6 separate regions of the Homo sapiens genome follow, and all the other regions are reported to be linked to region 1. Evidence: microRNA targets listed by miRTarBase, many of them from high-throughput screens and not tested one by one. Region 1 holds a microRNA gene; each other region holds the end of a gene's coding sequence.

The links. Region 1 holds the annotated microRNA hsa-miR-5703 (AGGAGAAGUCGGGAAGGU, at 3,154-3,171, opposite strand). A microRNA usually pairs through its seed, bases 2 to 8, with sites in the 3' UTR of a target mRNA and lowers its output. Matches are read on the target gene's strand: a 7mer-m8 pairs with bases 2 to 8, a 7mer-A1 pairs with bases 2 to 7 and ends in A, and an 8mer does both.
Region 2: miRTarBase lists DPY19L4 as a target of hsa-miR-5703. Seed matches in the 3' UTR shown: 7mer-A1 at 1,946-1,952.
Region 3: the mRNA of FMNL3 is a reported target of hsa-miR-5703. Seed matches in the 3' UTR shown: 7mer-m8 at 2,822-2,828, 8mer at 2,378-2,385, 7mer-A1 at 2,249-2,255, 7mer-m8 at 1,094-1,100 and 7mer-A1 at 1,063-1,069.
Region 4: miRTarBase lists NUDCD2 as a target of hsa-miR-5703. Seed matches in the 3' UTR shown: 8mer at 1,885-1,892, 8mer at 2,390-2,397, 7mer-A1 at 2,646-2,652 and 7mer-m8 at 3,386-3,392.
Region 5: miRTarBase lists ASTN2 as a target of hsa-miR-5703. The part of its 3' UTR that is shown has no 7-base or 8-base seed match.
Region 6: the mRNA of SIAH3 is a reported target of hsa-miR-5703. Seed matches in the 3' UTR shown: 7mer-m8 at 4,771-4,777, 7mer-m8 at 4,150-4,156, 7mer-A1 at 3,279-3,285 and 7mer-A1 at 3,219-3,225.

Annotation. Positions count from the first base shown.
Region 1 is chr2:227,470,111-227,475,332 of GRCh38, reverse strand. MIR5703 (microRNA 5703) reads right to left here and starts at 3,201; the gene lies at 3,146-3,201. It overlaps AGFG1 (ArfGAP with FG repeats 1), which reads right to left and starts at 3,177. Exons shown (of 13, transcript NM_004504.5): 1 at 2,745-3,177. The coding sequence starts at 2,911. LOC124907994 (a long non-coding RNA gene) reads left to right here and starts at 3,234. Exons shown (of 2, transcript XR_007088114.1): 1 at 3,234-4,173; 2 at 4,344-4,545. RefSeq lists a silencer at 2,469-3,188 and an enhancer at 3,301-4,264.
Region 2 is chr8:94,789,280-94,794,501 of GRCh38, forward strand. DPY19L4 (dpy-19 like 4) reads left to right here. Exons shown (of 19, transcript NM_181787.3): 19 at 467-4,557. The coding sequence ends at 631. Among named protein-coding and RNA genes, the nearest start is that of INTS8, 31 kb to the right of the region's middle.
Region 3 is chr12:49,641,177-49,646,398 of GRCh38, forward strand. FMNL3 (formin like 3) reads right to left here. Exons shown (of 26, transcript NM_175736.5): 26 at 1-4,727. The coding sequence ends at 4,639. It overlaps PRPF40B (pre-mRNA processing factor 40B), which reads left to right. Exons shown (of 26, transcript NM_001031698.3): 19 at 732-848; 20 at 1,059-1,196; 21 at 1,404-1,499; 22 at 1,754-1,840; 23 at 2,047-2,221; 24 at 2,515-2,576; 25 at 2,685-2,828; 26 at 2,924-3,489. The coding sequence ends at 3,016. Among named protein-coding and RNA genes, the nearest start is that of PRPF40B, 20 kb to the left of the region's middle.
Region 4 is chr5:163,449,301-163,454,522 of GRCh38, reverse strand. It overlaps NUDCD2 (NudC domain containing 2), which reads left to right. Exons shown (of 4, transcript NM_145266.6): 4 at 473-5,222. The coding sequence ends at 556. It also overlaps a transcript of CCNG1 not described here. Among named protein-coding and RNA genes, the nearest start is that of NUDCD2, 8.2 kb to the left of the region's middle.
Region 5 is chr9:116,421,260-116,426,481 of GRCh38, reverse strand. It overlaps ASTN2 (astrotactin 2), which reads left to right. Exons shown (of 23, transcript NM_001365068.1): 23 at 394-3,370. The coding sequence ends at 631. Among named protein-coding and RNA genes, the nearest start is that of PAPPA-AS1, 23 kb to the right of the region's middle. RefSeq lists a silencer at 3,495-3,751.
Region 6 is chr13:45,778,519-45,783,740 of GRCh38, forward strand. It overlaps SIAH3 (siah E3 ubiquitin protein ligase family member 3), which reads right to left. Exons shown (of 2, transcript NM_198849.3): 2 at 1-5,222. The coding sequence ends at 4,865. Among named protein-coding and RNA genes, the nearest start is that of SIAH3, 71 kb to the right of the region's middle. RefSeq lists enhancers at 4,631-5,131, 5,132-5,222.

The sequences.
Region 1 (5,222 bases):
CTAAGCTAACCCAATCAGAGGGAAATGCAGAACTTCTGAAAGTATTGGACCAACGACATAATTAAGGCAGTATACCCAGGAGCTGGGGACAACCATGCTCGAATGAGGAAAATCTAGGCAATATTATTAAGCCACTGTATAGTTTTACTTTAAAATCAATCAATAAACCCTTCATATTTTTAAACCAATTAGATTCCGGTTTTGAGTTACAACCATAAAATCCAAAGTGACAGATTTTTATTAGGATATTTCTTATTTAATATCTTTCACATACAGTACTGTTCCCTTACTCATGGCATGTCCTCTTCCTTGATGCTTCTCATCTATAGGGCACTTGCTATATACCAGGCATTACGTGAGATGTTTAACATACATTATTTTTAATACTGAAAACAAATCTACATCCAAAACTTACAAGGGAAATCTTATCCTCACTGTTTCATATAAGAGAAAAATCAAGCTCAAATAGATTGAGTGACATTCTCAATACCGTATAACTAATACTTGGAGTCAGGATTCAAAGCCATGTGTACCTAGCTCATAAGTACTTGATCTTTCAAACATATGAAGCAGAATTTCTCGTTAAAGGTCTTTGCTCAGGCATCAACTCCCAGAGAAGCTGTATCATTTACATATTTCCTGGCTATCTCATTCACAGAAAGGAAATACTACAATATATTGTAACTCTACGTTTACATACTTACAAGGCACGCTCCATAGAACAGTTAAGATCCAGGTAACTTATGACACAGGACAAGTAGGCAATAAATATTTGTGGAATGACTCAATAGAGAAATGAAGTCCTATCTGCCACAGATTAAGTTCCATTAAGATAAATAATTGTCATTATACTGAGATATCCTTTTATGCACAATGTTTCTGAAATGTGGTATCTAGGAAGAAATTTGAAAATATGTCCTTGATATTACACATTTGCTGCTGTACTTACAGGGACTACACAGAAATGTCAGAAATCCGGAAGTGTAAATATATGTATTTTTTCCAAATCAAATACTTTACATGGATTAAAGGACCTGTGTTTAGTAAAAGCAGGACATACATCTTAACCATGTAATAAAAATCAAATACAATTACAATTGTTCTATTGGCTTCATTTTGGAACCAATATTGTCCAACGTAAGTAACAACTTTCTAGCTTAACTCCTTTTTCTGTAAATGAAATGCATGAACCAGGCTACCTCCTTGATATCACCTAGCTCTGTGATTCTGTAGTAATTCGAGAATATTATTAACTGGCAACTTCTCAGAGTGTCTCCCTGGCCACACAGCCTAAAAGTAACCATGAGCACTCTCCTATCAAACAATTTTCATGTTCAGCATAGTACTTGCCCAAGACATTTTTCTTACTTTTGCATCCCCACTGGACTGTAAGAACCAAGAGAACAAGACTTTGCTATATTTACTGGCACACCCCAGGGCCTTACACAACCTAATAGGCACCAAAAAAAATGTCTGCTGAAGAAATAACACTCATGTAATACTAATAATGCCTCTTTGCCCAACTTTAAAAAGCAAATAGTACATACTAGACATGTTCTGCATTTTCTAAGTTTTAAGAAATCAATTTTCCCACATAAAGTATTATGTGCTTTGTATTAATCTTACAAGCAAAGGTTTTAAAAATACTTAGTAACTGCCACGTTGTTAGTAACTTTAAATACAAGATAATAATATAAAAGCATTTTATCAATTCCAAAACCACCTGCAAATTTTCCGAATGAAATTGCACGGCAATAAAAATCTTTATCAAAATAAAGCTTAATGAAGCAAAGAACAACAAACACAAATCATCCCAGTAACTCAGGACGGTAGTGTCTTTCTGAAATCATGGTGACTTGCTAGCTCTCCTCATTTCTGTGTACAGCCAGGGCACTCGGGTATTGATAGCGAGATACAGATAAATCTCACAGATAACTCCATCATATTTAGAATCACACAGCTCCTAGTGGGTACCTTATTGCCATTAAAACTTTCCCCCAACTCCTCAACACTCTCTTCGGACCATAAAACTAAAATCCCACAGCTTCAAATCTGCTCCTCTGCCTCCCCCTCCCGCAATTAATCCTTTCGAACTTTTCCCAGGGGATTCACATCTGCCATCAAGATGCTTTCATCCTGCTACTATTCCTAAGTGCCTGCTTCCTCCCAGTTACGTAGGTACTCTCGACCCAGAAAAAAGGCACGGGCGAGGCAGGCGTCCCTCCCTCCCACCCCAGCTTCTCCCCGACCCCCAGCAGGAGCGCCCAGCAGGTGCCTCGCTCCGCACCGCGGCTCCCGGGCCGCTGAGAGGCGGGGCACACAAAGGACCCGCATGGACCTCCCCCCCGGCCTCCTAGCGTCTTCCCCCACCCCCCACAGCCCGGCGCCCCGGGTAGCTGGAGAGCGAGGGCGGCGGCCGCAGGCTCGACGGAGACCAGGGACGCTCGCCCCGGTCGCCCCCTCCCTGACCCCAACCCCGCCCACGTCCCACCCACGAAGGCTGCCCAGAACGTAAACCCTCGCCCGGCAAAACCGAAAACGCATCCCCAGCCCGGCTGCCCGGGCCCTGCGCATCCAGCCCGCAGCCTCCCACGCCGCGCCCGCCAGCCGGCGCCCAACGGCCGCCCCCGACCGCCTCCCACGGCACCCGGCTCTTTCCCAGCCCCGGAAGGGTCCCGGTCCCGCCGCCCGCTCCCCCACCTCCCGGGAAGGGCCCGACACCCGCCCGGCCGCCCCGCACTCACAGGCTGCCGGAGCAGGAGGTACACACGAAGGAGCCGACCGTCATGTTAACGTAGGTGGGGCCGCGCTGGTCGCAGTCGAAGCACTTTCGGTTGTGCGGGAGGCCGGTCATGTCCCGCAGCATCTTCAGGTGCTTCTCCTCCTGCTTCCGCTTCGCGCTGGCCGCCATGGCCGCGGCGCCAAGGGAGGAGGCCGGCAGGGCCGGGAGCCGGGCAGCGCTGCGCCGGGGGCCCGCGGTCCCACGGGCCGCCCTGGCCGCGGCCGCCGCCCTCCGTCTGCGCGCGCCGCCCGCGCCGGACCCGGCCGCAGCGGCTTGGCTGTACTGGGCTCGACGCGGCCCGGGCGCTGTGGTACGCGGGCTGACGGGCCACACCAACCGGCACAGCCGGGACAACCGCCGCCGCCGCCGCCACCTTCCCGACTTCTCCTGAGGGGAAAAGACGAGGAAGGGGACGGCAAGAGGAGGCCCGCCCTGGGCGGCCGGTAGCCAAGTGTCCGCTGGCGCCCTCTGCTGGCCAGGAGGAGTCACTGCGGCCTCGCTGAGGCATGGGCCGGGTCTGGAGCCAAGTAGGGTAGACACAATGGTGATAATAATATTAATAATAGACAGTATTTATTGAGCGCTTATATATGCAAAGCGTTTCACATGGGTTACCTTCCCCTTCTGTTTAAAACTCTTCAAGGGCTTTCCACTGCTTTGAGTATAATTCCAAATTCCTCACCGTGCCGTAAAAAGTGCTCCATAGTCTAGCCCAGTCTACCTCATTCTTCGTCGTCCTCACTCAGCCACACTGGATTTTGAGTTTTCTGAACACAGCAAGCTCCTTTCTGACTCCTGCAGGACCTTTGCCCTTGCTCTTCTCTCTTTATCTTTGGGCCAGCTAATTTGGGGGGGCTTGGGGTGTCCTGTGCACTGTAGGATACTGGGCGGCGTTCCTAGCCTATACCCACTAGATACAAGAACAAACCCCCCAATTCCCATTGCTGGCAACCAAAAATCCCCAGACATTGCCAAAAGTGGAGGGAACTTTAGGGCGGTGCAGTCACCTGGCTTGAGAACTGCTGCGTGTGGAAACCCGGATCATCCATAGCTGACATCCTCTAAGTCAGGTGGGGCTCAGATGTCACCTCCCCCGCCAGACTGTCCCAGATCAGCCGAGTTAATGTTGCAGCTCACCTTTCTCGAAGTTGCTCTCCATCAAATTGCTGCGTTGTATTTTCGTCTCAGTTCTAGCTATTTGAAATACTGCATCTTATTTCGTGTTTACCATGGGTGATCTGGACTCTCCCTTTAGGCGCTAAACAGCCTGGCCCCCGTATTTTCTGTGCCACTCCACCCCATTCCCCTCGCAGAGCTGGAGACTAGGTGTTCAATGTTGACGGAATGAATACATGAAATCGTTCATGTAATCTTCACAACAACCCTTCGAGGTGAGCGTTATTGTTATTTACATTTTACAAAACAGGAAGATGAAACCCTGAGGGATTAAGTAAATTTACCCAAGGGTACCTATGGCGAAGCTCAATTCCAACCCAGACAGCCAGACTGCAGGACCCAAATCCCCACTGCAACAATCAACTTCGTCTCTCGTTTTCCAAAGGAGTACAGGGAGACCCAGAGAGCTGAAGTTCTCAAATCACTGGGCTGTTGAATGGATTAGAATCTACGTTTCCTAACAGCCAAGACCAACCTCCACATCTCTCATGAAAGGGATTGGGTGAATCAACAAAGTGAGACTTCATATTAATATAATACTACTAATAATAATTAATGTTTTTAATATTAAAAGAAATGGACAGATAGATTGGCCAATGAATGTTTTTAAACTTTTCTATTATGGAAAATATCAAACTACCATGAGCCCATGGACCACTTTCAGCAATGATTAAGCCCATGGCTAATCTTGCTTTATAAATACCTCAACCCTCCATCCCCTCTCCTATTATTTTAAAGCAAATTCTAGGTTTCGTACCATTCATCTAAATGGTACATAGTTCCATTTGTATCCCTAAAAAATAAAAACTTTATCTCTTTCAAACTTAGCCATGATACCGTTAGCATATCTAAAAAGTTAACAATAGGCTGGGCACGATGGCGCACACCTGTAATCCCAGCACTGTGGGAGGCCAAGGCAGGTGGATTACCTGAGGTCAGGAGTTCAGGACCAGCCTGGCCTACATGGCGAAACCGGGTCTCTACTAAAAATATGAAAATTAGCCAGGCATGGTGGCATGCACTTGTAGTCCCAGCTACTTGGGAAGCTGAGGCAGGAGAATCACTTGAACCTGGGAGGCAGAGGTGGCAGTGAGCCAAGATTGTGCCACTGCACTCCAACCTGGGCAATAGAGCAAGACTCCGCCTCAAAAAAAAAAAAGTTAATAACTCCTAAAGATCATCAAATATCGCACTAGTGTTTAAGTTGGCAATTATCAATATTTTAATGAGATTTTTACAGTTTGTTTGAACCCACTCCTTGCAA
Region 2 (5,222 bases), not on the chromosome of region 1:
TTCAAGCTAACTAAGCTATCTTAGTGAACATCATTCGGTGAAATTGTAAAGGTCTGCACTAAGTCACGAAAGTTTCCTTGCTTACTAAATAATTCTACACGAGAAGAGTGAATATATTTAGGAATATAATATGTTCATTTCTCAGCCTTGGTAGGGTGCATGATAAGGTCTTCGGAGCGATGATAATGGATTATGGAAACACTGCCTTCTAAATTTTAGGATTAAATCTTTTAAAAATTGGAAACCTTTGTGCTGGTTTCTCAGTGTCAATGAGAAGTTCAGGAGTATAGTGGGCATGGTGACTCACTTATGAAGAAGGCTTCTATTTGCTAACAGTGAGATGTTTTATAGACAATGTTTAGCAATAATGTGTTTTTTCATATAAATATACTCATTTGTATATTGATTGCATTTCTGCTATAAGCTTAATAAGCTTTTTAATATTATGTTTTATATCTTTTAATAGATGGTTTGTGAAGAAGGTGACAAGCTAACCTACTCAAAATATGGGCGATTTTGTCATGAGGTCAAAATTAACTATTCTCCATATGTGAATTATTTCACTAGAGTATACTGGAACAGATCCTACTTTGTATATAAAATCAACACTGTGATATCCTTCCAGTCTTGAAAAATAACAGAGCCTTCATTTCAAAGACTACCTGAAGTAAAATGCAGTTTTCTTCTACCTACTCGGTGTCTTTTGCAGATCAGAGTATGGACATTTGAAATATTGCTGCTTCTTTCCCCCTTCTGCTGTTAACTGGATCCAGAGTTCTGTGGGAAATAGAAGATCAAGCATTACTGTCCTTTGATTAAATGTGATATCTACCACTCTGCAATATTCCAGACAGGTGTCTTCCTTACCGTTACATGGTCTTTAACACTTTTACTGATTGCAATATTTTCCCCATAAAATCTTCATTCTATTATAATATTGATCTTGAATTTGAATATGTGCAAGGTCAGATACATTTCTCAAACATAACATTTAATAAATAATGTGATATAATTATTTAATAGAAAGAATAATTCCGACCTTCAAGCAAGTTTCTGAAGGTATTTTATGATGTATAACAACTGAAGTTTTACAATAAAAACTAATTTAAATGTTAGCTGAAGATATGTGGCATTTAAATTAAAATGGAAATTATATAAAGGAAAGTGATTTTTAAGGATATACATAAAGATATATTTAGAATTTTCATGATACTGTTCTCCTCATCTACTGCTTATGTTAAGTGAGAACTTTCTTAGTAATACATAATGCATGATGTTACTGCATTTTCTAAATGACTAGTAAGTGATTAGTTTTTTCACTTATGCCTATTAATTTGATACCAATTTAATCATGATAAAACAATAACCGTTAACATATATTTTGTTAAATGGACATTTAAAAGAATGTTGTTCAGGTTTTTTTTTTAAATACTGATATGGGGCATACAATCTATTCACATGTTTTCTACTGAAGTACTAAGTAAAAAAATTAAATCATTATCAGAATAAAAATATGTGTTCTAAAATTAGCAACAATTTCTGGGGATACATGCAGATGTTGTTAAACGTACCTCTGCATACAGATATATTATAAAACACAAGCAATGTTATTTATGAAACTGTGATGCAGTCTTCAACATCAAGAAAAAATGACAACTATAATAAAATTTACAACACAGTTTCACAGTCTAAATGCTATGTTCCTTTAAGTATTTTCATATTTTTAATCATTTATTAAGAGAAAATTGTGAAAAGTTAATTTGGCCTTATAGAGAGATTCAGGATAGATGTAGCCTATAGATGTGTCATTTTAATAAGTTGGGATACATGTTTAGTTTTTCCTTATATTCCTGTTCAGTGAACAGATTTTCATAATTCTCACTTGTTAAAGTGCTGCAAAAATTGCATTTTCAGTACTCTAAATTACTACATTAGAAGAGAGCATTTCTCCATTGTCTTTATTTTCTGTTATATATGTGTTGTAAAAGTACACTACATTAGAAGGGAGCTTTTCCGTTGTCTTTATTTTCTGTTATACATGTGTTGTTAAAGTACATGCATTCTTAGACTAACTCTCAGATGCTTTGCTCTTTTGGAGCTGAAGAATTGTTTGATGGTGATGTCATATATCTGATAGATTAGTTTCAGTGGTTCTCATTTCACTTTTATACGTAATTTCTTAACTATATTAAGATAGTTGCAGGCAGTGTACCTCAGGTTGACTCTGTACATCTGAATAGTGAGTCACTAGTATTTTGCTTCAAGCCTTCTGAAAATATAACCATAGTTACCTAAGCACACAGTGAATAGTCACATGGTAGTACTTGTGATTAGAGCATGTAAAACAATGTAATTGAAAAGTCAGCTTCCATATTTTGTAGGGGAAATAGAACACCCTACTTTTTATCTAGTGTGAAATATTTAATCGAATTTTTGTTGATTTATATTATGTTACCTGTGCTGAATTAGGTTTGGTACTTGTGTTTTGTTTGACATATTAGTAAGTTGCTTTTGCTTCTTTCTGTCAACTTATTTTTTAAATAAAATTGATCTGGAAAAATTGTTAATGGGATGTTTTAAATAATGAATTTTTCATCCAGCATCAGTTGAAAAGGAAAAGAAAGCTTCATTATGGAAATGACAATATTGAATATGACAGATAAGTTTATTTGCTTCTGTTTTAACTGCAGTTAATAGTACTAGACAACTTTAAGTGGAAAGCATTTAGTTTATTTCTTCACTTATTTGTAGAGTGAACAAATGATTCACAATTCTACAAGTAATTCCACTTAGGTAACTTACAGTTGTTAGGTTTGACAATAAAGATCTACTATGAGAGGAGAAGAATTTATGGGTTTTGGGTGGAAGGAATTTCTCAAAGAAATAAAAAATGTTCTTTGCCCTTGATACTGCAAACCCACTGATACAAGTGCCTTGAATTTATTATTATTATTATTTTTTATTTTTTTGAGATGGAGTTTCACTCTTGTCTCCCAGGCTGGAGTGCAATGGCGCGATCTTGGCTCACTGCAACCTCCGCTCGCTGCAACCTCCGCCTCCCAGGTTCAAGTGATTCTCCTGCCTCAGCCTCCGGAGTAGCTGGGATTACAGGCACCTGCCACCAAGCACGGCTAATTTTTGTATTTTTAGTAGAAACGGGGTTTCGCCATGTTGGCCAGGCTGGTCTCGAACTCCTGACCTCAGATGATCCACTCACCCCAGCCTCCCAAAGTGCTGGGATTACAGACGTGAGCCACTGCGCCCGGCGCAAGTCTTTGTTAAAAGTAGAGATGGAGGCCAGGCGCAGTGGCTCACTCCTGTAATCCCAGCACTTTGGGAGGCTGAGGCAGGCAGATCACGAGGTCAGGAGATCGAGACCATCTTGGCTAACACGGTGAAACCCCGTCTCTACTGAAAATACAAAAAATTAGCCGGGCAGGGTGGCGGGCGCCTGTAGTCCCAGCTACTCCGAGGCTGAAGCAGGAGAATGGCGTCAAGCGGCGAGGCGGAGCTTGCGGTGAGCCGAGATCATGCCGCTGCACTCCAGCCTGGGCAACAGAGCAAGACTCCATCTCAAAAAGAAAAAAAAAGTAGAGATGGGATCTCTAGCCTCCTAAGTTAATTTAGCCTCCCAAATGCCAGACAAAGAATCTAACATAAAATTTACCTTGAATAAGATATATGATATTGATTCTGAGCTGCTTTGTATTTTTTCTGACTTTGGCATCTGTATCTTGGTGCTTTCTGTTAGACTGGTAGAGTTTAAGAACCTAAGGAGTATGCATTGTACTTCAGTGCTAACTTTTTTCTTCATTTACTTTCTGTGTATATAGGCAGCATATTTTTTTTGTAGAACATTAACCCAGATTGCTAATAGCTTCATGTTACGGCATTCTTCCACACAGTCCAGATTGATTTAAGGAAAAGCAGAAATGGAAGTCAAAGTGTGTTATAAATTGAGACTGAAAAACATGCTTTAAAAAATAGATTTAATTTCTTACACTGTGAATAGCCATTGTATTGTTTTGTTTCTGATAAATCAGTTGTTTTGGGCCCCTATTTTTGAACTGTTAAAAAATTTTGATGCTTTTCGTGGATAAAAGTAGTGCCTCTCTTTATACAACTGATGGGGTTTTAAAAAGTGTAAATTGCCTTTTTTGTTAAACTTATTTTAAATGCTTTAGTATTTAAAGGGTGTATGTTATTAATTAATCTGCATATTTGTAACGCAAATAACTACTTCCTGATTTACATCTCAATATATTCTTCTTTCATTTGCCCAATTTAAAAAATACGTAGTCTCTATTGTTGCTGTTTACTAATAGTTTTAGATCCCAATGTGTATTAGAATTATAGCTACAAAAAGTTGCAAGTAAAATTTAGCAATTTCCTATTCAAACAGGATCTCATTAGTATGTTTTTTAATGTGTAGAATTAACACTTTAAAATAAACAGGTGTGAAAATTATAAAGGAATATATATGACAATTATTTTCTGTACATTAATGTCTAAACATTATACTTACTTTTTCATAATAAAGGAAATTTTGGAACCAAATTTGCTGAGTTTAGCATAAAGGCGTCTTTGAATTATTTCTGAGTTTCCTAAAATGTGCAACATTTTAATCTTGGCATATCTAATCCTATGTGCTGTTCTGTAAGAGGTACACTGGACTTCTAACCACTATATGTATTTAGTAGAATAATGGTATCACAAAGGAACAAGAATTCCAAACTTATAGTTTGAAATGTCTCATAAACAACCCTTTCGTATTTTAAGTTAGTAGCTTTGTATAGCTATTTAACACAGATGAGTATAGTTAGCTTTATATATATTATCCTCTGAGTCTTATCTGTGACAATGTGTATTTAGATTAAATATGTTCCTCCTGTAACTAAAGTTGCATCTTTGCAAAGGATCAAAGTTCATTTCAGCAGACACAAATTCTTTGAAAGATTTGGGCTATAAACTAACACTTCAAATTTTGTAATAATCAATATACTTTTATCAAGAAGGAAATTATTTCATGCTTAATTACCCTCCTTATTTTGTTTCCATAATAAAACTATTTTCAGAATTTTAAGTTATTTTATTTATACATGAGCTTTTTTGGTGACAGCTTCGCTGAGATATAATTCATATACCGTACAATTCACCCGTTTAAAATGTATAATTCAGCCGGGTGCAGTGGCTCATGCCCGTAATCCCAACACTTTGGGAGG
Region 3 (5,222 bases), not on the chromosome of region 1:
CTAAATGAGAAGCATAGAGCCTGGCCTGTGGACATGTTTTTAGTATTGGTGGGGAGCTGCACACCTGGTGGCCTCCGTTTCTCCCATGGACTAAGTCATCTGGGTGGGTGTGGTGCTTGAAAGCAGACACTTTGGGGATAGAGAGCCCCCCCAGGGTAGGGTTCTTGCCCAGCCGTATATCAGCTGTGAGACCTTGGGCAAGTGCTCTAGTTTCTCTGAACCTTGGTTTCTCCTTCTGTGTAAAATTAGGATACTAGGACCTATTCTTAAATGTAGAACCAAGAGGATTAAATGAGATAATGTGTGAAACACTCATCATGGTACCTGGTACATAGTAAGCACTCAATAAATAGACCCAAAGGGTAGGGGCCAGCAAATGTTGATTGAGAATGCATGGAAGCACTGCTGAGCAGCAGGAGGGCCCAGCTGGGGCCAGAGCTTTAAGCCAAAGGAACAAAAGTTAATTTTGAGAAACTCAGCATTAATCAGCAGTTGGGAGACATCTCCCAACCCCTTCAGCTCTGTGTGACATCCAAACCAAGGGTAGGCATGGGGGCTTAATTGTCAAGTGATGAGGACTTGGATAACTTGGTTTCTAATGCAGACCACAGTCCTGTGGATCTCTTCCAGAGGCAAGGGCCTTCTTGACCATCTGTAATGTGACCACTCTGCCTGCCAGCTTTGGCCTCAGGCACGTGGTGCCCCTGCTTCATGCACTGCTGTACCCACAGGACCGGGGCTTCTGCGTGGAGGTGAACACGGCCTTTGAGGACTTCGCCCACGTCATAAGCTTTGACAAGAGGGCTGCCGCACTGGACGCAGGCAACATCAAGCTGACCTTCAATAGTGTGAGGGGCTGGGCGGGGCGTGGGAAGTTCTCTAATTCATCTGTGTCTTGCTCCATTCCTTCTCACTCACTGTCCCACTGACTATATTCCCAATTCAGGGGATGGTGGTAGAAGCCCAGACCCTAACTTTCCACCTCCTAAGGTATGCCTGAGTGGGACCTGGCATCCACCCTCCTGGGTGACCCTGTTCCGTGTCCCTTCTTTCCTCAGCTGCTGGAGAAAGCAGAGGCACGGGAGAGGGAGCGGGAGAAGGAGGAGGCACGCAGGATGCGGCGCAGGGAAGCTGCCTTTCGAAGCATGCTGAGGCAGGCTGTGCCTGCTCTGGAGCTAGGCACTGCCTGGGAAGAGGTCAGGAGCGTAGCCTGGCCCCAAGCACCCCTCAAGCCTGAGGGCAGCGGTGCTTCACCACTGAGGGCCCACCCCAGTCACGTCACAGCCCTGGGCCAGCTCCAGTTCCCTTCCTTTCTCTGCCCCAGCCCTGCCCTGTGCTCATGGCGGTGTCCAGGCCAGGCTGAGTGGGGCCTAGTCTGATCAGCAGTGCTCTCCTCGTTCAAGGTCCGTGAGCGTTTTGTGTGTGACTCAGCCTTTGAGCAGATCACCCTGGAGTCGGAGCGGATCCGGCTCTTCCGGGAGTTCCTACAGGTGCTGGAGGTGAGGCAGGCTTGTCCTCTGGATCTGCCTCAGGCCCTTGAACTCATTAGACCAGTTCAACAGAGACCTCAGTGGCCTCCCTCTTACCCTTAGGGCACTCCTGGCCAGCTAAGGAAGGGGAGGCCTGAGGATCCCTGGGATAGGCAGAAGGCTCTAGTCTGAGAAAGGGAGGCAAAGCCAGATTTTAGGAAGTAGGATCCTTCCTGGGGCTAAGTCTGGTGCTGTCCTCACCCTTCTTCCTCTGCCTCTAGCAGACTGAATGCCAGCACCTCCACACCAAAGGCCGAAAGCATGGCAGGAAAGGCAAGAAGCACCATCACAAGCGTTCCCACTCACCCTCAGTGAGTAAGCGTGTAGAAGGGACATGGGGTGAAGCTGGGTTGTTTTGGGGAAATAAACACTTTGTTTTCCCCTTACAATATCTCCCTTGGAGGGAAGTTTGAGGATTCCTTTGGCCCTGGGTCCTCCTCCTCTCTCGAATTCCCAGACGAGGGCTTCTGGAGGGCAGAGAACCTCTGCACTGACATGTATCTGCTGATCTGCCCAGGGCTCTGAGTCAGAAGAAGAGGAGCTGCCCCCACCATCTCTCCGGCCCCCCAAGCGGAGGAGGCGGAACCCCTCAGAGTCAGGCTCTGAGCCCTCTTCCTCACTTGATTCAGTTGAAAGTGGGGGTGCTGCCCTTGGAGGACGGGGCTCCCCTTCCTCCCATCTTCTTGGAGCAGGTAAGCAGTTGCTGTGAGCGTAGAAGCTGGAGAACTGTTGTCCCAGACTGAGAGGATGCCCTCCACAAGCCCCAGCTCCTTTGAGGGTAGACTGGATTGGGAGGGCTGCACCTGTGGAAGTAGAAAGAACTTCCTCTACCTGCCCAAGCAAGAAGCTGGAGAAGGAAAACTGGACTTAGACTTCCTCAGAGCATGAGGTTCCTGCCTGTGAAGAATGAACAGAGGGGCTAGAACAAAGAAAAAGAGCCTGTCTTTCTCCTGTTGGGACTTAGTAGGGATTTTTCTATCTCTAGATCATGGCCTTCGGAAAGCCAAGAAACCAAAAAAGAAAACTAAGAAGAGAAGACACAAGTCGGTGAGTGAAGGAACTTCTACCTAAGCCCCTGCTATTTTGTGAGTTCTGTTCTACCTGCCTCCCAGGCTATCCACAGGAACTGAGGAGGTGGGCTCTGGACTCTTACAGAATAGTCCTGAGAGTGAGACAGACCCTGAGGAGAAAGCTGGCAAGGAGAGCGATGAGAAAGAACAAGAACAGGACAAGGACAGGGAGCTCCAACAGGCAGAGCTCCCTAACCGTTCCCCAGGCTTTGGAATCAAGAAGGAGAAGGTGAGGGGCAGGGGCCCTAGGCCAGTCAGCACGCTGGTCAAGCTTCCACGGCCCTTAGTGCAGGCTAAGGGTGAACTGTGCCTTTGCTCCAACAGACAGGCTGGGACACGTCAGAAAGTGAGCTGAGTGAGGGTGAGCTGGAGAGGCGGCGGCGGACACTCCTACAGCAGCTGGATGATCACCAGTGACCCAATGAGCTGTTCTCTGCCTCGGGTCTGTGTGAGGCCATGGCTCCTGGGCCACCCTCACCGTCTGCCTCAGACTTCTTCCTTAGTCTGGTCTGTGTCCACTTTTTCTAAAGTAACCCCACCCCCAGCACACCATTGTTGGCACCTCTCAAGGTTGCTCTTGGTGTTCAAGGGTCCCCTACTCCCTGGACTAGTGCAGTCCTTGCCCTCAGCCCCAGACCAGAGATGGGTGGTATATGCCATGTGGGGTGGGTGATGCCAGTAGATAAAAGTGTGAGAGAAGGGGTCTCCAGGGAAGAGTCACAGGCTGTTGGACGCAGCCTGGGTGGCAGAGGGCAGGGTCATCACCCTCTAGCATCAGTGCCTGCTCCTGCCTGCCCTGGCCCTGAGGCTCCACCACTTCTTCCTCCACCCAGGACCTAATGTACGTGTGTTTTGTTTTTTGTTTTTTAAATAACAATATTTATAACATGGCCAGTGACTCTTTTCCATGTGCTACTGGGGCAGGCTGGGGACTGGACACATGCCCAGCAGAGGGCACTAGTGTCTCATGGCAGGCCTGCTTCCCTTTGTGTGGCTAGAGCCCACCTAGCCGGTTCTCCTTTCCCCAGAGTTCTGATCTCATCTCCTCCAAAACAGATGCAGTGCCCCAAAGATTTCTTTTCTATCCCCATAGCCCAGGTCAGACTAAATGGCCACCCTAGCCCCCTAAGCTCAGAAAGAGGAGACAAAGTCAGGCCTGGTGCATCAAGCCTTTGTTGAGAGGGGGAGAGTCTGAGGTTTATGTACAGTAAGAGGAAAGGGAGGTGGTACATGTACAAAAAAGTGGGCCCCCACATTCCCTTCCAGGGGCAGAGGAGAAACGGGAAGGTAAGCAAATAGCCAAGACCACCATGCTCCTTGTCCCCTGCCAAAAAAAAAAAAAAAAAAAAAAAAACCGTAGCTGAGGAAAGAAGGTGAAGAGTTGGCACACCCTTTCTCCAGCCATCTGCAGAGAGTGGTTGGTGCAGAGAAGACCTCTGCTCTTCTGCCCACCTTGACAAGGACAGTGTGAGCCTAGAATGAAATGGGCAGAGAAATAAGGGCAGTGAGCCTGACATCTCTCCTCTTACCCTTATCACTAGGGCACAGCTGGCACGGCCCATGCTTCAGAGGGCCTTGCTCCTGGTAAGAGATGAACTGAGACTGGCAGGGTCCCAGGGCTCCCTAAGCCTAGATACATCTAGACCAGAGCTGACCATGGGCCTGCAAAAAGGAAGGGAAAAAAAAAGAAAGAACAGTTGCTCTCTCCTCTCATCCCTCTGGGCTCTAGTGGGAGAGATCTATGTGCCCTGTTTAGGCTAAGGCTGGAAATGGTTTTTCCTAGCCCTGAGCTGACCCTTGGTGACCCTTCAGGAAATGAAGTCAAAGACCTTGGGGGCAAAGTGCAGTACTGGAAGCACCAGGGACCTACAGACCTAGTGCCCATAGTGGCACAAGTAGAAAGATCCAGCCTCAAGAGCTGGGGCGGACATGGTTGAGAGAGCAACACAGCCCTCTCCTGAGCCCTTGGCCAATTCCAGGTCCACTGGTTGGACTTGTAGGACTCTGAGGGGTGAAGTGCTTCTGCCTCCGAGAGGGTCTCAGTGGGGGCCTGGAGCCCGAGGGGGACCACTGGGCGGTGCAGCACTCCTGGCTTGGTGGCGAACAACCATAGGCTGGCAGTGGAGGCCTGTGGGGGAAGAGAGAGACCTGTGAACAGGATGGGAGGGTGAGCCAGGACAGTGCCCTCAAGAGCAGCCCCACAGGTAGGGCCAGGGAGGAGCCAGCAGTGAGGCAGATAAACAGGAGGCTTAGATAAGGCTTGAGGGGTACCCAGTTGGGGAAATTGCTGGTTGGGGAGATTGCTGGGCTTTGCATTTCAGAGGATCAGGTTGGGGTGACTAGAGGCCACTGGGCAGTGGAGAGAGACAAGGTAGATGCATTCAGAAAGAGCCAGAAACTAGGAAAAGACCCCAGGCTGACTGGACGTCAGGAAACAGATCAAGGGACATCTGATACCTCCTGGTCAGAAGCTACTACCAGAGCTCTTATGAGAAGAGAACCGTAGGGAAAGGTTCCTTAGGCCTGGGAATGGACCCTCAACCTCAGCCTCAAAGATCAGAACTGTAGGTCTGGTCCTGCCTGCTCTGGCCTGTTCTCAACACTGGCCTGGTGACTCCCTACC
Region 4 (5,222 bases), not on the chromosome of region 1:
CTAAAAATACAAAATTAGCCAGGCATGGTGGTACATGCCTGTAATCGCAGCTACTCGGGAGGCTTAGGCAGGAGAATCGCTTGAACCTGGGAGGCAGAGATTATGGTGAGCTGAGGTCGCACCATTGCACTCCCGCCTGGGCAACAAGAGCGAAACTCCGTCTCAAAAAAAATAATAATAAATAAAATAAAAATGCTAGCTATTAAATATAACTACAGACTTTTATTGAAGTATATGTTTCCCCATACACTTGCCAACATTGTAGTGTACATATGATGTCTAAATATTTGTAACTGGGAGAGTTGAAAAATGCCTCATAATTTTAAATATTACTTTGGTGGTAACAGTGAAGTCTGTTATATTTTCATGTATTTATTGGTCATTTATATATCCTTTTTTATCAATTGCCAGTTTGTACTTGTATTTTTCCTTATAAGTTTTATTTCATTATATATATGTTTGTATCTTTTAGAATCCTGGTTTTGACTTCAGTGGAGCAGAAATCTCAGGAAACTACACTAAAGGTGGACCAGATTTCTCAAACCTTGAGAAATAACTGCTTTTTTTCCTGCATTCTGTGGATCCTAGCAGATATTGCCAACTTAATCAGATAAACAGATTATGTAATGGAAGAAAAATGCGGATGCCTACAGTTAACAGATTGCAAAATGTATCTTAAAATGGTTCTAAAAATTGCATTCAAACATAATTTACATAGGAAATGTACTGTGGGAACTATTCTATGGATATATGGTAAAGTTGTTTTGGACTTGTTTTTGCTCAGCATGAAGTTTTATATGCTGCATTTTACTAATTCCATATTTAACCATATTTTTAATACAAAAGAACATTAGAGTATAGATCATGTGAAATGAAGGGTGCCTTTGGGGAAAATTAACTTTTTCTTTTGATAAGTATGATATTCAATAAAATTTTCTAAATAGGAATTGTGTACCCCTTTGTCTAAGTATAACAATTCACACAAAATTATAGTGCTGAAAACAATTTTAATAAAGGAAAAAGTCCATAAATGTATTTTAAGTAAATTAAGAGTTAATGTAAATTTCTTAATTAGAATATTATTACTTGAGGGATTACTTTATGTCAAGAAGTTTAAAAATAGTTAAAACCCTAACAATAGAAGTGGATTAACACAAAAGAGAAGTGTGATCATGGTAATTAGGTGAGTCCTTTGTGGCAGAAAGCAAAGTAAGGTCACTAATTGTATATCAGTGGCATCATTTTGATTGTAAGTGATTTAGGCATATAGGTAGGAATTGTCTATAGACATTTTATTCAATATCCTATTTATGTCCTTTTTATTTTTTGCCCTTTTTAACTCTTGAAAAAATTTTAAATCTCATGCATAGAAAAGTTACAGATAATTTTTTTCTTTCTGAACCATTTGTGATTTAGTTGAAGACATGATTCCTCATTACTGATTACTATCTGCTTCAAATTATCTTACATGACTACAATGCAACCATTAGAATCAGGAAATTTACGTTGACACATTACTACCCTCTAATCCTCAGATCTTCACTTCATTCACATTGAACTGATTGTCCCAATAATGTCCATATAGCAAGAGGATCCAGTCAGAATCATGCCTTTCATTTAGATGTCAGCTGTCTTTAGTTTACTTCATTCTGGAACAAATTCTCATTTGTTTCCTTTTACAACTTAGTACTTTTGACAATTATGGGCTAGTTTTGTAGAACACCCCTTATTTTGAGTTCTGTCTGATACTTCATGATTAGATTGAGGTTATTCATCTTTGGCAGGAATGTGATAGAAGTGCATCCTGTCATTGTTTAATAATTTCAGTTTGTCTCATTTCTGATGGTGTTTCTTAGATGACTGATTAAGGTAGTGTCTGCCAGACTTCTCCACTGTAGTTATTTTTATAATTATTTCTTGAGAAGATAGTTGCAAAATACTACCTTGTTTCTGATCAGACTTTAAATTTATCGTATCTCTATAAACTCATTATTTTCTATTTTATTCAGCAGGTTAAAAAACCTATTATCATTACATTGGTGCTCAAAATTATTGTACATTTGGCTGGTAGAAGTCCATTCTGGGTGGCCTCTGTGTCCTTCTGACACATTCCCATCATTATTCAATGAATTTGTTACTCTCTGGCATAAGATATACCAGGCTTCTCATGCTGTCCTCGACCTAACCCAAGAATCAGCCATTTTTCCGTAGAGCCTGGGTTCTCTTTAGTGAGTAATATTTAAAAGCCAAGATCTGTGCTAGTGTGCAATTGCCGTTGGTGTGTATATATAATGCATGTCTTTACATCTATATTTCTGCATCTATGTATATTGAAAACCATGAATTCACATATAAATTCTGATCCCATGGGCTTCATTTTCATTTTTTCCTTCTCCACATTTATAACCGTTTTCAGTACCAGTGAGAAACCTGATTCCTATTTGATTATTTGTGGGGTTTTTTTTTTTTAAGGTGGAGTTTCACTCTTGTTGCCCAGACTGGAGTGCAGTCGCGCGATCTCGGCTTACTGCAACCTCCGCCTCCTGGGTTCAAGCGATTCTCCTGCCTCAGCCTCCCAAGTAGCTGGGATTACAGGCATGCGCTGCCACACCTGGCTAATTTTTAATTTTTGGTAGAGACGGGGTTTCTCCATGTTGGTCAGGCTGGTCTCGAACTCCGGACATCAGGTGATCCGCCCGCCTGGGCCTCCCAAATTGCTGGGATTACAGGTGTGAGCCACTGCGCCTGGCCTGATTCTCTATTGTAGGTCATCTCCCCACATGAATGTCTTCCTCACCCTGCTTAGGCTTCGCATCCTATGCTGAGCAGGAATGTCCTCCTCATCCTGCCTGGACCCTAATACCTCACTCCAGGCCATGGCAGTCCATTCACCCTGTGATTCCTATCTTGCTCATTTTAGGAATGAATTGTCGGGGGAAGAGGCTATTTTTCTTTTAATTTTATTCTCTTTGACATTTAACAAAATTTTTTGAGTAAAGTAAAATTAACTTTTTTGGTGTATGGTTTGGTGAATTTTAAGTATAGATATGTGTAAACACCTCCACAGTCAGAGTATTGAAGAGTTCAATCACCGTAAAAACTCTCGTGCTCTCTTTGTACTCTACACACCCTACTCCCAGCCCCTAAACCTTGGAAACCACTGATCTAATCCCCATCTCCATATTTTTGTCTTCAAGCATGTTATAAATGGGATCATATATAATTAAGAAAAACGCTTTATTGTAACAACATACATTTCACCCATTTAAGGTGTGTAATTCAGTAGCTTTTAGTATATACACAGATAAATGCAACCATTCCAATAATCAATTTTAGAATGTTTTCATCACCTCAGATAGAAACCTTGTATAGTTTAGCTTTTATCCTTCTCCTGTCATCCCCCGCCATCCATACTACCTCTTTTCATCTCATAGATTTCCTTATTCTGGACATTTCATGTACATGGAATCATAATACGTGGTCTTTGGTTACTGGCTTCCTTCACTTTACATGTCTTAAGAGGTTCATCTATATTCGAGCATGTATCAGCACATTCATTAGTATGTCTGAAAATACTTCATTGTATGGCTGTAGCACTTTGTTTATACATTTGTAAGTTGGACATTTTGGGTATTTCCACCCTTTGGCTGTCCTGACTAAAGCTGCTATAAACGTGTACAAGTCTTTATGTGCATATGTGTTTTCATTTCTTACCTAGGAGTAGAATTTTTAGGTTATATGATAACTATGTTAATCATTTGAGGAGCTGTCATTGTTTCCCAAAGCAGCTACATCTTTTTACTTTCCCACCAGCAGTGTATGCAGGTTCCATTTTCTCTGCATCCTTGCCAATACTTGTTTACCTGACATTTTGATTTTAGTCACTCTAGTGGATATGAAATGGGATCTCTATCTAGTTTTGGTTTGCTATTCTCTGATACTATGTTGAGCATTCTTTCTTGTGCTTATTGGCTATTTGTGTATCTTCCTTAAAGCAGTGTTTATTCAAATTATTTACCCATTTTTTTAGTTGTCTTATTGGGTAGTAAGAGTCTTTATATATTCTGGGTACAAGTCTCTTACCAGGTATATGATTTGTAATTTCTCCTATTCTCTCTTTACTTTGTTGATAGTGTCTTTTGAAGCACAGACTTAATTTTGATGAAGTCTTATCCATCATGCCATTGGTGGATCATGTTTTTGGTGTCATGTCTAGGAACCTTAACCCCAGGTCATGAGGAATTTTTCTTTTTTCTTTTTTTGACTCACATTCTCACTCTGTCACCCAGGCTGGGGTGCAGTGGCACAATCTCCACTCACTGCAACCTCTGCCTGCTGGGTTCAAGTGATTCTTGTGCTTCAGTCTCCCAAGTAGCTGGGACTACAGGTGTGCACCACCACTCCCAGCCCATTTTTTTTTTATTTTTTATTTTTAGTAGAGTTGGGATTTCACCATATAGGCTAGGCTGGTCTTGAACTGACCTCAACGGATCTGCCCGCCTCAGCCTCTGAAGTGCTGGGATTACAGGCATGAGCCACCGTGCCCGGCCTATGGATTTTTTTCTTCTAAAAATTTTATAAATTTAGTTCTACATTTAGATCCGTGATCCATTTTAGGTTAATTTTTGTATAAGCTGTGAAATTTAGGTAGGTTTATTTTTTTGCATATGGATGTTCAGTTGTTTTAAAATCGTCTGTTGAAAAACTCTCCATTCCCCATTGAGTTGTCTTTTCACCTTTGTCAGAAATCAATTGCTATTTATGTGAGTCTGGTTTTGGACTTTATTCCATCGATCTATGTGTTTATCCTTTCATAAATACCAGATTGCCTTGATTATCACAGCTTTATAGTAAGTCTTAAAACTGGGCAGCATGATTCCTTCAAAATTTTTTTGAAATCTTTTTCAAAATTGTTTTGGCTAATTTAGTTTCTTTGCCTTCCATATGAATTTTAGAATTAGCTACTCTGTATCTACAAAAAATCCTACTGGGGTTTTGAATGCAATTTTGTGTCTTCCAATCCATGAACATGAGGTATCTATTTAGGACCTCTTTCATTTCAGTTATCAGCATTTTATGTCATTTTTCAGCATATATTCCACAGTGTTCATTTTGGAGGAACTATTGTTAAGTTGTATTATTTTTGAAACATGGGTTTCCAATTGCACATCGCTAGTATGTACAAATGTGTTTGATTTTTGTTTGTTGACCTTGTATCCTGT
Region 5 (5,222 bases), not on the chromosome of region 1:
ATGTAAAATATATGTAAAATGCATACCCAGTGTCTAGCATATGGTGTCAATAACTTTTGGTTGTTCTTGTTGCTTTTTAATCATTATAATAATACCTATTTGATCAGAGTCCAAGGCTGGTCACCTTTGAACTCCTAGGGCTCCCATATCCTAGAAGTGAAAATACTAGGTTAAAGGCTCTACCTCTTTTTCATTTTTTAACACATTGCACAATTGAAGAAGATAGGTTCTAGGGCAATTTTTGAATCAGTGTTTGAAGTACCACACTCCAATCTGGAGTAGATAGGAAATGGTTGGGAGAAGTTACCATTTGTTTGTTGACATTTACTACCTCAAAGGTCTAACTCTTGATCTGGACTTCTTTAATCATGGCTGTCTCATCCTACCTTTCAGGAAGGCCCACCTGATTCTACGGCGACTGGAGAGGGTGAGTAGCCACTGCTCCAGCCTCCTGCGGAGTGCCTACATCCAGAGCCGCGTGGAAACAGTGCCCTATCTTTTCTGCCGCAGCGAGGAGGTCCGGCCTGCAGGCATGGTGTGGTATAGCATCCTCAAGGACACCAAAATCACGTGTGAGGAGAAGATGGTGTCAATGGCCCGAAACACGTACGGGGAGTCCAAGGGCCGGTGAGGGAGGGTATTGCCCTCCGTGAGCACAGAGACTCTCCATGGGAGGGGGAGCAGTATTCTCCTGGATCCTGGGGCCTGGGTGGGCTGGGGGACAGCTGAGGATGGGCCTAGCAGATGAAGCTTGCCAGCAAGGCCAAAGCAAACGGTTTCTCCTGTGGATAGTGGACAGAGACCTTTGTAACCAATGGAATTATTCATTTTTCTCTATCTTTTATTTTTTCAAAGATATTATTTGACTCTATCAAAAGTCTCTCCTTTTTAAACCTTTTCTTATGGATGGCTGTCAATCCCGAGGCAGAAGTTTTCAGGTGGAGACCAAGCGGCCTTTGCTCTTCTTCCTTCTTCCTGCCACACTCTGCTTTCTTCCTGCCATGGACCCCTGGAGGAGACCTATGGAGGGACAGTTTTGACCTGACCCCTAGAGGAGACAGTTTTGACCTCTTCAGCACCAGGAAGGAAGCTCTGAGGATGGTTGCAGTGAGGAAGCATGGGTCTTTAAGGACTTCTCTCTCTTTTTTGCTGGACATTATTGAGTTTGTGGGACCCTGCCTCTTCCTGCTACCTGTGGGTCTGCCCAGAGTCCCTGCAGGCCTGTCCATGCATTAAAAATTCCTATTGTCTCTCTTTCTGCTTGGGTGGTATTTCTTACCAAGGGAATGTGCTTGAGAGACCTCTGTTTATTCACTTATTGAGTATCTACCCTGTGCCAGTCACAGAGCATATGCAACTAAAGACAGAGAAGCTTCCTTCCCTCAGGGAACTTATTGCCCAGTGGAAATTATAGAGAAGGAGTCTGGTCATTTCAAGCTGTGCTAGAGGAAGAATGGAGGTTCTTTGCACTCACTGTTAGAGCATGAGACACACTGGAGGGCTCCTGAAATGCTTCCTTGAAAAAGTGATACCTAAACCCAAAGGATGAGTAGAAATAAGCCAGACAGAGAGGTGAAAAAGATGGGATTTGCTTGCCAGGCACAGTGGCTCATGCCTGTAATCCTAGCACTTTGGGAGGCCAGGGCAGGTGGATCACTTGAGGCCAGGAGTTTGAGACCAGCCTGGCTAATGTGGTGAAACCCCGTCTCTACTAACAATACAAAAAATAAAAAATAGCAGGGCATGGTGGCACGTGCCTGTAATCAATCCCAGCTACTTGGGAGGCTGAGGCATGAGAATTGCTTGAACCTGGGAGGCAGAGTTTGCAGTGAACTGACATGGAGCCACTGGACTCCAGCCTAGGTGACAACTTAAAAAAAAAAAAAAAGATGGAATTTGCTCCAGGAAGAAGAGATATGAACAAAAGCCCAGAGACAAGAGACAGTACACCTCTTTCAAGGACTGAAAACTTTCCTTAAGAGTAGGGATCAAAATAGGAAGTGTTAAAAGGTGAGGCTGGGAGCTTGGCAAGGCATTGGAAGCTTTGGGCAAGAAGCTTGATGCTGCCTTGAAGCATCCATGACTATTTATATGACTAAATAGTCAACTTACTCTTTAAGAAAATCATTCTCACTACAGGGTGAAGGATGGATTGGAGAAGGCCCCAAAGAGAGGGGTGCCATTGTCATTTTCCATGAAGGAGGTGATGATAGCTTAGGGGGTGACATACCAACACTGGAATCTCCCTTTATTTATCTATTTTTAAAACAGCTTTATTGAGGTATCATTGAAATATCCTTTTAAATGGTAATTGCACTGCTTCCAGTGTACCCTTCCCTGGGAGGGTAATGAGTATGAAGAGATGTTATAAATTCTTAACACCCTCATATTAGCTCAAATAAGCTACCTAGCTTGAGCAGATGGGATGTAGGTCAGGTATATCATAATGCAAAGATGACACCTGTTAAGAGAAGAGAGTGTAGCACTGTGGGGTTTCAGAAGAGGAAAAGATACTGAATATCAATAAAACATAAGCCATTCAAAATATGCCTATCCTCATTTGTGTAGTGGTGAGTAAAAAAGAAAAAAACCATGCCTACTTCTCAATTTGGCAAATGTTGATGAGATTGACAATCCCCTTCCTGATAACCTACATATTGAGCGCATTTTTTTCCCCAGGACTTCAATCCATATGGGGAAAATGGGTAACACAAAAGAAAACAAAGCAGAAAGAGATTCTTCCAACCTTGGTGCCTGGGAAGCTTCTCAACCTCTCACAATCTAAGCTCTAAGGCACTCTTTCAGGAAGTTTACTATTATTGGGTTTATGTTTCTCTAAGTATACAGGTGGAGCTTCTAAATGCCTCTCATGTATACCACTTCCTGGGTATACATGGGCCTTCAGAGAGCTATCAGTTTGCTGGGCCTGGGTCCCAAGTTTTCAGAGAGCTATCAGGTTGCTGTTGCTTTCCATTGTCTTGACCCAACCCGAGGAACAATTTAGCTCAACAGTTGCAGAAAATTACAGCACTCAATGTGCTGGTGTGGTGATCTGAGCCTGATTAAGTTTGAATCTGACAACACTGCTATTCACCAGCTATTGCCCTTAAGGGAGTAACTTGACATCAGGTTTCTCATCAACAAAGTGGAGTCAATGCTGGTCCCACCTCAAGGGGTTGTTTCCCAGCTTGAATGATAAGGGAGTTAACATGCATCCAATGCAATGTATAGTGTTTTTATTTTATTTTTTATTTTTTCTCCTGATGGAGACAATATGCATAATACTGTGAGTCTTGGGCAGACATCCAGGAAAATCTGGTTGGGAAAGACCTAGAGAATTCTGATTAAAAGAAAGAATTAATGATTTTCAGCTCTGTCAGCTATGTGAATTGTAACTAGTGTCAAAAACTTAAAGAGAAGTGGTCACCATGGTGGAATTTAATGCAATAACAAGACCCCCAAAGAGAAGTGTGTCGTTAAAAAAAAGAAACATTCTTGACCTGTAAATGAAGCTATTGGGTATGGTGCCCTGGCCTCTGCATGACCAGATTGATCCATGCACTGCCACGGAACTTGCCAGGGAAGCTCATGTCACAATATGCTGGCAAGGATGAGACTTCTCATGTAGTCTTCACCACCATATAGAGAAGTTGTGAACACACAGATGTGTGTGTTAGGGGTGCATAGGAAATCACCCCTAAATGACCTCATCCTTCTGGATGGTCAAGAATTATCTTCTCTCAGCAGGCTTCGTGATAAAGTGTGCACTACAGACAAATGCTGGTAACTACCATTTAAGGGATCCTCATACCGATGGCTCTACATACTTATCTCATTTAACCATGAGCAAAACAGTCATGTGCTATTGTGGCGATCATTTTACAATTCAAGAAACTCCGGTTTAGGCAGACTGAATAACCTGCCCCAAATCCTGTAGGTAGTAAGTGATGGTATTGAGATACTGAGATCTAAACTTGAGCAGACAAAGTAATTCCAAATGATGAGCACTGTGTATGCACACTACCTGCTAGGGCTACTAAGTGCAGTGCCTCCCTTCTCCATCTTAAGTCAAAAACTAAGTCTAACTTCCAACCAATACCAGAGTACTGATTTCCAGGTTTGGGGTACTAACATGAACAGGATCCAGCTCCTCCCCTTAAGGAACTCCCAGAATTTAGCTAACTAAATACAGCAGGATAAAATCAGACACTCTGGAGTCAAGCCAATCTGGGTTTAAATATTGGCTGTGCAATTTACAGTGAGGCAGGGCCAACCTTTAAGAGAAATTTAGGAGGCAAACTCAACAGACATTGCTAACTAATAAGCTCAGGTTAGCTGGCATTAACTTAACCTCTCTAAGCCTCACTTTTCTCATCTGTGAAAGGGATAAATATACTACTTCAAGACTGTTGGGAAGATTAAATTAGATGATGTATATAAAGCCATCGTGTACTTGAAAACAAAAGTTCTTAGTAAATAGTTATTATAATGACTGTTTTTTAAGAGATAGAGTCTCACTCTGTCACCCTAGCTAGAGTGCAGTGCAGTGGTACTAACACAGCTCATTGCAGCCTCAACCTCCCAGGTTCAAGCAATCCTCCCACCTTAGTCCCCCAAGTAGCTGAGACTACAGGCGTGCACCACCACACCCAGCTAATTTTTGTAATTTTTTGTAGTGTAATTTTTCTTCATGTTGCCCAGCCTTGTCTTGAACTCCTGAGCTCAGGCAATTCTCCCACCTCGGCCTCCCAAAGTGCTGGAATTATAGGCATGAGCCACTGTGCCAGGCCTATAATGACTTCTTTACATGAGAAAGGGTGGGTGCAATGGACTCTGCCATTGGAAGGCAAGTCATCATCAGGAAAGCCTTCATAGTCAAAGGATTTATAAGAGTTTAGTAAGTACAGTAGTAGAAAAAGGGCATGAGGGACAGAGAGACTAGCATATTGATGAAAAAGTGTGCCATATTTGAGGGATAGTGAGCAACTGGTGTGGTCAGGGAGATGGAGAATGTGTTTGGAGAAGTTGTCAGAGCCAGACCACATTGGCCATTGGAAGGCACTGGACTGAAAGCAGAGGTGTGACATGGGCAGATAAGCATTTTCAAATGCCCCTCCTGGGTGCAGAGTAGGAGAGTGGGGAGGAGAGAGTGGGAAGAAGACTAGATAGGAGACTATAGGTATTGTTTAGGAGGAAGATGAGGAAGCTTGAGCTATGGCCAT
Region 6 (5,222 bases), not on the chromosome of region 1:
GAAGAGTTCGTGTTTCCCCAACAATTTGCTGTTCCGCTGGCTTGGCTGTCATTTATGCCCTTGTCAGTACGGCCTTCCAGGGCCTTGCTTCTCCTTCCAAAGTCCCCTCTCCCACCCTGCTGTGCTCATCAGCAATGTCTAGGCAGTGGTATTAAGTCAACCCTCTGTATCCACATGTTCCACACCTGTGGATTCCACCAACTGTGAATCAAGAATATTCAGGAAAAAAAAAAGAAATAATACAACAATAAGAAATAATGCAGTATAAAAACTATTGACATAGCATTTACATTGTATTAGGTATTATAAGTACTCTAGAGATTATTTAAAGTATATGGGAGGATTGCGTAGGTTATATACAAATACTATGCCGTTTTATATAAGGGACTTGAGCATCTTCAGATTTTAGTGTCCACGAGATTCCTGGAACCAATCCCCCAAGGATACTGAGGGATGATTATACTGTTAAGTGCTTAACAACTGGCTTTCTAGGGAGAAAAATCCCTGTCTAGTAGCATTTGCTAATTTCCATGGTATGAATACTTCCACCATGGCTAATTTCAAGCAATCACCATGACGTCACTAAATGTGGAGCTGGAAGATGCGGTGCAGCACATTATTATATAGTATGTTCATCATACAGATGTGATAGATGTAAATAACCCCAGGAGCATAGAGAATAAAAAGAGTAGTGAAATAATTAGGAAGTGATGAGTTTTAAGTACTTTTGACCTTTGCTTTAAATATAATTTATTTAATTGTAAATGTATATCATTTTTAATACTGACTGTACTTAATTAACAATCAGCTTGCAAAATTCCTGAAAGATTAACAACCAGAATACAAGCAGCTCTAGTACTCCACTAGGTCTTGGGTTGAAAAAAGAGGGAGAAAAAGGGGAGCTAAAAGGCCATATTGAGTATGAAAGCACTAAAAGGCCTCTATGCCATTCACACTTTATGACTCGGTCCTTCTGAGCCTTGGGTCCATATGTTCATAGAAATGACATGGTTGCTGTTGGTCAGAAGCCATACGTACCCGGTCCCAGGCCCAGCTCTGCCATTTGCTAGCTGGGTGATCTTAAGCAAGTTGGCTAAATTCTCTTAGCTTACGTTTCCCACCCGTAACATGAATACAATAAAGAGCACCTGCTTGCTAAGGTTGTTATGGGGATTACATGATCTACTATATTCAAAGTACGCAGCCTACTGGATCATATAGAAAAGCCTCAATAAGTGGTAGCCATGAGTACTATTATGGTTACTATGCTGATCTATTCCTAAAATGTCCAGAGTAGCCACAGCTAGTGATGGGGTTTACCAGGTACAGATTCATGCAGATACCAATTGTTAAAGACAATCTTCGTGTGGCCTGACCTCCATTTCGGCGTCAACCATGTATGTAGGCTCAGCCTCAAGGGGAGGAATGCTCCTCTCTCCACACCTCCTGAAAAAAACCTCTGGCAGATGCCTGAAGTTCAGATACTGGTAACTCATTTTTCACTGTTAAGTGCGCTGTCTCTCTAGGCCTTCTTTTAAAAGGCAATTACTCCTTAGAGAGTGAGTCATTAACTCTTGCACCTTGGTGTGAATGAGGCAACCAGATCCCAGCGTTCTGTGCAGGGACTCCTGGGACTCTAAGGTGAGAAACCTGGGTGTGGGCAAAGGGATTCAGAAAGGGCCTGGCGCACTGAAGCCTCCATCTGCAGCCCACCCACTTCCTGGGCCCCCTGCTTCCAGGTGGACTAGTGCTTTTTTTTTTTTTCTAAAGAGATAGGGTCTCACTCTGTTGCCCAGGCTGGAGTTACAAGTGGTGCAATCACAGCTCACTGTGACCTCAACCTCCTGGGCTCAAGCCATCCCCCTGTCTTGGCCTCCGAGTAGTTAAGACTATAGGCTTGTGTCACCATGCCCAGCTGATTTTTTTTTTTGTAGAAATGAAGTCTCGCTATATTGCCCAGGCTGGTCTCAAACTCCTGAGCTCAAGCAATCCTCCTTCCTTGGCCTCCCAAAGTCCTGGGATTATGGACGTGAGCCACCATCCCTGGCCTAGTTCTTAAAGCAGAGATGCTTCTAAAAGCAAATCTACTCCAGTCTTTCTCTCCCTGCTCCCTCAACTATCCCAGGACAAAGACTCAGTTGATTCTCAGGTCCTCAGTCCACTGGTAAGCTGGCAAGACTGCTGAATATTTCGGATCAGTCTTACTTCAAGAACACCAAGTTTGCAGTCAGTTGATCTGGGTTTTGGTTGTGGTCTAACCACCTGATGTGTGACCTTGAAAAGATCACTTCATGTCTTAGAACCTCTATTCTGTTAGTATATTGAGGATACTAATGAGGATTAACCTGAGACTCAAATCAAAGAGCCCTTCAGGAACTGTGAAGCTCAAATACAAACTGCTGGTACCATTTCCTATTCCCAATTCTTGGTTGTTAGTTTGCTCCTTCTTCTCCAGTTCTTCACATATGGATATGGAGAGGCCTTTTGGGGAGCACCATAGATGGAAGATAATAATACATTTCCCATGCTTTGTCCTAAAGCTTTCTAGGAACAAAAATATAAGCTCCCATCTGGGATCACTTATTCATAATACAGTCTTGTGTGCAGTGAAAATAACCTGAAGTCATTCCCAGTGTGGCTCAGGTAACTTGGCACAACCAGAAGGCAAAGGTGATGTCTGCAGGAGCCCTAAGGCCCTGTGAATGTTAGTTATATTCTTAGTGAGGTTTTTGTTTGTTGATCTGGAGCACCTGTGATGCTACACAAATGCTTTCAAAGTGGTTGAGTCTCAAAAACCAGGAGAGGACCTGTGGCTTCTAAAGGCATAAGACTTACAGCCAAGGGGGTCTTAGGTTCTGGGAAGGGGATTGGGGATGCAGTGAGGAGGAAGACAGCCAGTCTTTCCACGCACAGACGGACCAGCCTCAGGTGTTCTTGGGCATCTGTGTGATTGGAGGAGGGTGGCTGGTGCCCTGGCAGGGCATCTGAGAGCTCAAAGAATGCGCAGGCCCCAATCCTTTTTTGCGACTGCAGCATCTGACATGTGCCTCCATCTGTGGCAATGTTTTTTGCCCCTCTCAGGGCTCTGACGGAATGCAGTCTCAGCCCCAGGGGCCCAGCGATTACTGTGTGACCAGAGCAGCCTCTGTTATTAAATCTTGTATCGACTGGCACCTCCCTTCTGGTGCGTGGGGGTGTAAGTTGGCACCAAAAGTGGCTGGAGAATTAACCCAGTTGTTGGGGGAAGGGTGTTGTGTTTCAGGATCAGTTATTTTTGGTGGAGAAAAAATTGCAGATGGCCAGCCAGGGCAACCTGCCTGAGACTAAGTAGTCACTTGGATGCCTGCCAGGACCAAGCCGAGGGGGTGAGGTGCAGGAACAGGGCACGGAGAGTAATGTCTGGTTGGCCAAAGGCCCATTTGGCTGTCATGGGAATGTGCTGGGGATGGGGTGCCTGACTTCTGCAGTGTCTGGAGAGCAGCCAGAGGGGGGGGACAAATGCGATAAAAAGGAGCTAGAAGAGGTCCTACTGGGAAGGCTTATAGGTGTCCAACTTAGAACAGAAAAGACAAAGTTGACTAAACATGCTGACTTTCTTCAAATACACGAGAGACTTCTACAAGAAGATGTTGATGAATTGTTCTGACAACCAAATAAGAGAAAGCAGCCTGCGCAGAGGAAATATGGATTTCCGTCACTGTGTCATTCATACTGCAACAGGTGCTGAATACATACTTGAGCCGTGGTCACGTCTGCGTGCTGAATGGGACGGTAGGAGCATTTTAGAAAGTGAGGAAAGGGAAGAGAGCCTCCCAGGTTTGTAAGTGATGACCAGCCCGCCAGGTCAGAGATCCTGGGTGCCACCCTCTGAGTTCTTTGCATTTGATGATGAGTCCTGGTTCTGCTTTTTGCATGATATGAAAGAACTGCACCCTAGGGAGGAACTGATGGATTTTATAACTTGATAATAAAACTCTCTGAGGAGGGAGTGCCCTCTCAGAGATGGGAGATTAATTTTATGTTCTCTTTTTCCTGTTGCTTTTCATCCCCACCCCCCATCTTGCCTATTCTTTTCTACTACTTGCTCAACAGAAGGCAAAGGGGTTTTTAAGAAAGCATCAAAAATCTGAGGACTTTGATTCCAGAGCAGGAGAAGACGGCACAGCCTGGGAACAAGGTGACAAGAGCCCGTCACAGGAAGGTGGGCCTCTGACTACTCTCCTGAGCCCCAGCATCAACCTGAGCACTCAGCACACAATGACACCTCTAGCCCAGTCCCCAGCCCTGCGGTGGAGACACGATCTCCTCATGCCCGGCTAGCTCAGCTTTGACCTTGAGGTTCCTGGGAAGCTGTCAGAGTCATGTCTGGATGGTCTGAAATGTGATCCATCTCTGAGCTGGGCCCCTTCCCCAACCTGCCGACTGCACACGTTCAGATTTAGCTTGCTCTGAAATAGACTGAAAAGAGAAACAAGAAATGATTCTCACACGAAGCCTCCTTTCAACCCCAACAGTCTGCTTGATGGTGTTTTGATCCTTTCAAAACTAGCGGAGAAAGGACTTGGAGGTGACAGGAAAAAACTATTCTGAATAAATCTTACAAACATTCTATAAAACAACACCAACAAGGCAGGACAAACATCACACCAAGATCTTAAATTACAGGATGTTTACATAATATAATGCCCATGGCAGACAAAAACTAAATCTCACAAAGTACCTGAGACAAAAAAATAATAATAATTAAAAATTAAAAAAAAAAAAAAGAAAGGAGAAGAATAAAAAGGAGTCTGGAGTCCTGGTATTGGGAGGTCCCAGGCGTTTCCTAGGGAGGCTGTGTGGGGAGCATCCGTGGCTCCTGGCCTCACATTTCAGCTTCTGAGGGGAGGACCTCTGTCGCGGTGATGGCAATCCCAATGGCAAGGCTGCCGTTGTCAGAGAAGAGCTGTGCCAGCGAGGTGTTGAGGACGAGGCAGTCCCCGTCCGTAATCACCGAGTCCACGCACTCAAGAACAGACCGGGGCGTGGCCTCCCACTTGAGGCGCCGATGGTTTCTGTTGAGCTCCAGGCGATAGGTGAAGCAGTCGGCCTGGGTGGGGGTCCCAATCAGCATCATGGTGGCAAAGAACTGGGGGTGCCCTTCATGCCTCTCCTGTTTCCTCAGCACCAACAGAAAGTGGTGGCCAAGGCAGGAGTGCATGATGATCCAATCAGCCGGCGCG